2 separate regions of the Homo sapiens genome follow, and region 2 is linked to region 1. A link means that fine-mapping ties the variant in region 1 to the expression of a gene that starts in the linked region. Tissue or cell type: spleen. Region 1 holds a variant in brackets; the other region holds the start of a gene. All regions are shown on one strand. Distances are from middle to middle. Region 1 holds the start of LOC124900721 (a long non-coding RNA gene). Region 2 holds the start of LINC01094 (long intergenic non-protein coding RNA 1094).

What was found.
Region 2: LINC01094 starts here. The variant in region 1 is fine-mapped to the expression of LINC01094 in spleen (GTEx, PIP 0.90).

What each region holds. Positions count from the first base shown.
Region 1 is chr4:78,612,600-78,615,519 of GRCh38, forward strand. It overlaps LOC124900721 (a long non-coding RNA gene), which reads left to right and starts at 2,194. Exons shown (of 2, transcript XR_007058152.1): 1 at 2,194-2,920. The variant T/G (reference allele first, on the strand shown) is at 1,481.
Region 2 is chr4:78,644,305-78,647,224 of GRCh38, forward strand. LINC01094 (long intergenic non-protein coding RNA 1094) reads left to right here and starts at 1,690. Exons shown (of 3, transcript NR_038308.1): 1 at 1,690-1,959. RefSeq lists an enhancer at 1,327-2,526.

The DNA.
Region 1 (2,920 bases):
ATGTCAAGTTCAAAGTGAACCCCACGGCCTTGCATCCCAATGGCAAAACCTACTTAACTTGCTTCAGAATAACATGGCCAAATCTAAACTGTTGGAAACTTCTTCTATAGAAGGTTTGTCATGGTTCAGAAATCTTATTGTCACTGTAAACTCCTTCTTAAGGAAACATGTGGAACATTTAATTTAATCATCTGGCTTCTCTGGATTCCCAGGACCATCTTCATTTACATGAATGTGCATTAGCTCTGACATGGATCACCTGCAGAATTGAGTGCATTCATGTCATCTCATTAAGCCCTAAGTTTAGTCCCTGAAGATTGAAAGAAGAGAAAAATAGCCAGCTGCAGAGAGTCCTGGGCTCTGTGGTTGGTGAGCTGCAGAAGCAGAAGGTTTGTACACTTCACGCTACAGTAACAGAATGTTTGGTCTATAAATCAGGAGCTGCAAAAATGGCAAATGAGGATGTTGAATAGGAGATTCTCTAGCCTATTTGTAAGAATGTATTGAGGAAATTTTTAAAATAGTGTACAGTAGTTCAGACATTTCTTCCATGTACCTTCCCCTATTTCCATTTCCCCAATTTCATGCCATATGGATAACCCACAGTTTTACTTTGTCTTTAAAACAATAATTTTGGGGTCATATCAAACTGGGTTCAAATCCTGGCTTCACCACTTATGGCAGCAGCGTAGATAACAGTGCTCGACAAATACTTAACCTCCATACAACTCAATTCTTTAGCTGACAATAACAGCACCTACCTTAAATATGTGCAAGGATGAAATGAAATAAAGCATGTGAAAAATTTAACTCAATAAAAATTAGTTACCAATAACTGCATTGGCATGGTGAGTTGCCAGTGAAGAGCAGATAGTAAGTGTTCAACAAGCATTTGTAGAATAAATAAGCGATACTTGTTTTAGTACTACTCAGCGACAGTAACTCTGAGGCCTTGGAAGCTTCAGAGAACTGTCAGCTGAAATCAGTGTTATTAATATGTTGTCAGTGTGTCCTCCAACGATAAGAGCCAACTGTGTTCACCTCAGTGATGAGGTTACAGGATCTGAAGAAAGTTTCCTAGTCTTATTTCCTGCCCATCAGTTGACAGTAGTATGACATGTGAGGGAGTGAGTCGCTTACTCTTTCTGTACCTTAGTTTCCTCACCTGTAAAGCCAGGATGGCCATGCAAGTATCATTCAGAGTAGGCGTGAGGTTTCAATAAGCCAGATTAGGTGATGCACTTACCACAGTGCCTGCACCCGTTAAGTGCTCAATAAACATTAGCCATTATTCTCTGGCTCAGTTTGGAAGACTTACAATTGCTTATACAGTGCTCTAATCACTTGGGGGATTTTGAGATGTTGTAAAGCTACCTCTTCTAGTTTGCAATTAGGAAAGAAGATAAAGCAAACTTCTTGGCAATTTCCTGCCTGTGAAACCTTGTGTTTTATGAGCCACGGAAAGTACCCCAAATTTTTT[T/G]TCAACCCCACCCCCAGCAAACTGACAAACTCAGATCTTTCCCACCCACTCTGTATGTCTCCCGTGGGACTGTGAGAGTCAAGCAAGTACAGGTTGCTGTGTGCTGAAGCCTTTTTACTGGTGCTATATTTCTTTCAGTTTCATCAAACTCAGCTTTGTGCCAGTTTTACCCACCAGGGCCAGCCCTCCTCTGAAACCAAAGTTTGCCTATTTCTGTAGAGTTTACAAAGTCAACAGTGAGAGAGAGGAGAATTTCAAATGAGGAGGAGGGTTACAGAGTAGGAGGTAACATTGAATGGCTGCTGCAGTAAACTGTTAAAAGAAATCCCAAACCCAGAATACCAGAGCAGCCCATTCAGCTGAAAGGTTTTATGACACAACCATGCATAAGAAAAAACTAGCTATCAAAATGTACATGTGACCTCTTTGGGCATAAACTTTGTGGAACTGGATGTGGCAATAAATAGTGGTCCAGGCCAGGCGTGGTGGCTCACCCCTGTAATCCCAACACTCTGGAAAACCGAGGAAGGCAGATCACCTGAGGTCAGGAGTTTGAGACCAGCCTGGCCAACATGGTGAAACCCTGTCTCTACTAAAAGTACAAAAAAATTAGCTGGGCGTGGTGGCAGATGCCTGTAATCCCAGCTACTCAGGAGGCTGAGGCAGGAGAATTCGCTTGAACATGGGAGAAAGAGGTTGCAGTGAGCCGAGATGGTGCCATTGCATTCCAGCCTGGGTGACAAGAGTGAAACTCTATCTCAAAAAAAAACATAGTGGTCCAAGGTGACCTGGCAGAGCATCAGACTTGCTGTGAAGCGACAGATGTGATTTGCCAATTGCTACAATATCAACCACCAGATAAAAGGAAGTTTTGAAAAAGAACATTGGGATAAAATCAGCTCCTACGAAAAAGAGCATGCCACAGTGGGGTAGAAAGTAGAGAAGAACAAAGGTCACAAGGGTAGGGAGTTGGTGAGAATTAGCCCAAATTCACCCCTCCTTTTAGAGAACTGCAGCAATCCACAGCGTAACTGGCTTGCATTGGTGCCCCTGGCCACAGACCTCAGAAGAGTTTAGAGATTTCCAAAGTTGCATTTAAATTTTTTGTTTTGTTTTGTGTCAGAGAGCCAAGTCCACAAAGAAAGTTCCAGATCATGTCTGCAAATTCTATTTAAACCGGTGTTAAATAGAATTTGACATCTGATAACTTCATGAAAAATATTTTTCTTGGTTTTTATCAGTCAAACCAAACTCCTTCCAACCTTTATTCTTCCAACATTTATTACATGGTAACTGTAGTCCAGAAACTACGCCAGGTGTTGGAGTTATAAAAGTGAAGAAAGCTACACATTTCCTGACTTCAAGGAGTTGACGATCTGGGGAATAAGCAAAGGAGAGGAAAGACAGATACTTGGCTAATTGGCAAGGACAGCATAGTGG
Region 2 (2,920 bases), 32 kb after region 1:
ATGGTTTTAGAAATTATCTTTAATTCTTTTACTTACTGGGGAAAAAAATAATCCAGAAAACTATAAAGAGATAAATATTTCCTATTATCCTGTTGTTTGAAAATAACTACAGTTAGTATTTTAGTATATAGCCTATTCTACTGTTGCAAAATAGGTGCATTTCTAAGAAATCTCAACTTATCAAAAGAATGTAAAGAAACAGGTAACACTGGTTGAAATTGGAGAAGGATGGCTGGGGAATAGGGATGGAACAAAAATTTCTCATTTAGAAATACTAGCATGTGCCTTTTAGATTTTGTCCTTTAAAAGTGTATCTCCTATTAAAATTAAGCCAAATTGCAATTTAAAACTAACTTTTTTAAAAAAAAATGTTTTAATGGGAACAGAAATGTTAAAACTCACAGTAGAACAGAATTTTAAAAATAGTAATTTTAACAATAAATTTGTTTTCATAACCATAAATGTATTTGGTTATTGCTAGCTTTAATTTTAAAAAGGTAGATCAAAACCTACAAAAGGAAACACAAACTTCCTTACACTTTCCGCCACGTATTCAGCACCGTCTAATGCCTCATCACTGTTGCCATGCAGGTCTGCCTGCAGTACAGTCCATTACAGCCAGGGGAAGCAGCAGCTTTTTATCATTTCCCAGTTCCCAGTCAGTTCTGGTTATTACTAACAGTGATTCATTAAATTATGTTCAATAAGCAGCTAATTGTGCTATGTCCAATTTTTGTTAGGGACACTTTAACTGTAGGAGAAATTAATGCCTGTATAATTTTCCAAATGCTTTCCCCAGGCGTGTATACATATACTTTATATAGAAGTTATCTTTTTAAATTTGTTTTTACCAAAAAAAGAATCATAATAAACATACTACTTTAGAAGGTTTTTTTCACCCAACAAAGCATTTTGAAATTCTTCTCATTTTAACTTACCAAATTTCACCTTATCTACAATAAAAGTTTAATCCCTTATGAATGAGATTTATCTTTCAAAAAAGAAATGAATTTGCTTTTCTCCTTTCATACTGCCAGTATTTTCAGTATCTTTATGATGTTACTATACGAACATAAAAAATCAGTGTGATTCCATTACCATTTAAAGCCAGACACTAAGACCAATGGAGGCTGATATTCCTGTAGGCCATAGCAACCCTGGGAAATCTTGCCTTTGCTGAAGCTATACCAAATCCAGAAGTAATTGAAGTCCCCCTAAGGTTTCAGGTCCCCCCAAAGAAGGCAGGAGTTGTGCATTACTCAGCATTCTCAGATCTATTCTAAAGCAGATTATTTTCTTAGATTTTGATTCAATTCCATGCAATTCAAGCATTTTTATTTAATAAGTACAAGGCATTGTGCTCAAGGAGAAGTGTACAAGCTAAACTGGATCATTCTAATTTTCCTGAACACTTACAACCTCGTAGGAAGACATACATACATAAGTAAGTATGATACAAGGAAAATTTGTAAGACAAAGTAAATAAAAGTATTATAAGAAACACAGAAGAGGGATAGATTACTTTAGGCTGAGTGAGGTGGCTTTTGAGTTCCTACTAGAAGGGTGTGTAGGATTGTGACTAGAAGAGAGAGGAAGGTCTGGATGGAGCAACAAGAGTCTGGGCTATTAACACAGGTTTGAGTCAGGCTGACCGGAGCTGTAAAGCCCTTCTCGTTCTCACTGTGTGTTCTTTTCAGTTCTGTCTTCCTGAGGCTGCTGTTTCTGGGCATGGCCAGGGGATCTTCAGACTTTACAAACCAGTTGTGCAGAGCCAGGCATTTCAATAAGGAACAAAATGCTGAGTAACAACATGAAGTCAGAGTGTTGCTTGCCAAGAGCTGGGAGGCCTGGGTGGTTTCCCAATCTTAAAGAAGCAGAAGGATATTAAAGTGAGCCTCCCAAAGGAAAACGTGGATCTACTTACCAACGCAGAAAATGATACACACGGATTCGATTTAGGTAAGTGCACCCCCTGTGATGACTATTGGTCACTTCCAGATCACATGGACTAACTGTAGGTCTCAACTATTTTGACTTTTTTTTTCCAGAACAGACTAATACATAACTAACGGCTTACCTTTGTGAAAAATATTTTATGCACTGTAGAACAGATAATTTTCAGTCCTGGGCCAAAGGGGGAAACTTTGGAGAGAATTAAACAGGAAATGACTCTGCTACAAAGAATTCAGGAGCATGAGTGAAGTGAATAAACAATCCAGGCACGATTGATGAATTCTAGATGTCCTGGGAATAACAGGGCTTGTTGCCAGCTCAGATGGGTGAAATCCTACTCTGATGAAAGGCTCCAGGGCTGCAAGGAGACCACTCCTACATCCATCACATCAGTGTCACAGGTTTACCACCTGCTCAGCGATTATTCAACATCCTAAGGCCTTTTGCCCCATTACACACGTTTGACCACTTAGTCCAGGAATGAGGTACCAAATACTAGGGAGATCTCATAAAGCCTGCAGCTAAAATAAGCAGAGGAATCAGAAGCTGGACAGAGTGACCCAAGGAGGACTGGGGATAACTCAGGAGTTCCTTTTTTTTTTCTTTTTGAGATGGAGTCTCGCTCTGTCGCCCAGGCTGGAGTGCAGTGGCGCGATCTCGGCTCACTGCAGCCTCCGCCTATTGGGTTCAAGCAGTTCTCCCGCCTCAGCCTCTCAAGTAGCTGGGACTACAGGCACCCACCACTACGCCTGGCTAATTTTTGTATTTTTAGTAGAGACGGGGTTTCACCATATTGGCCAGGCTGGTCTCAAACTCCTGACCTCATGATCCGCCCGCCTCGGCCTCCCAAGGAGTTCCTTATTTTAATATTTGCTGAAAATTCTCCACCATAATTTAAACATGTAATGATAAGAAAAATATCTGCTTCTGACTGAATATTTAGAAAACACAGAGCTATATAACATAG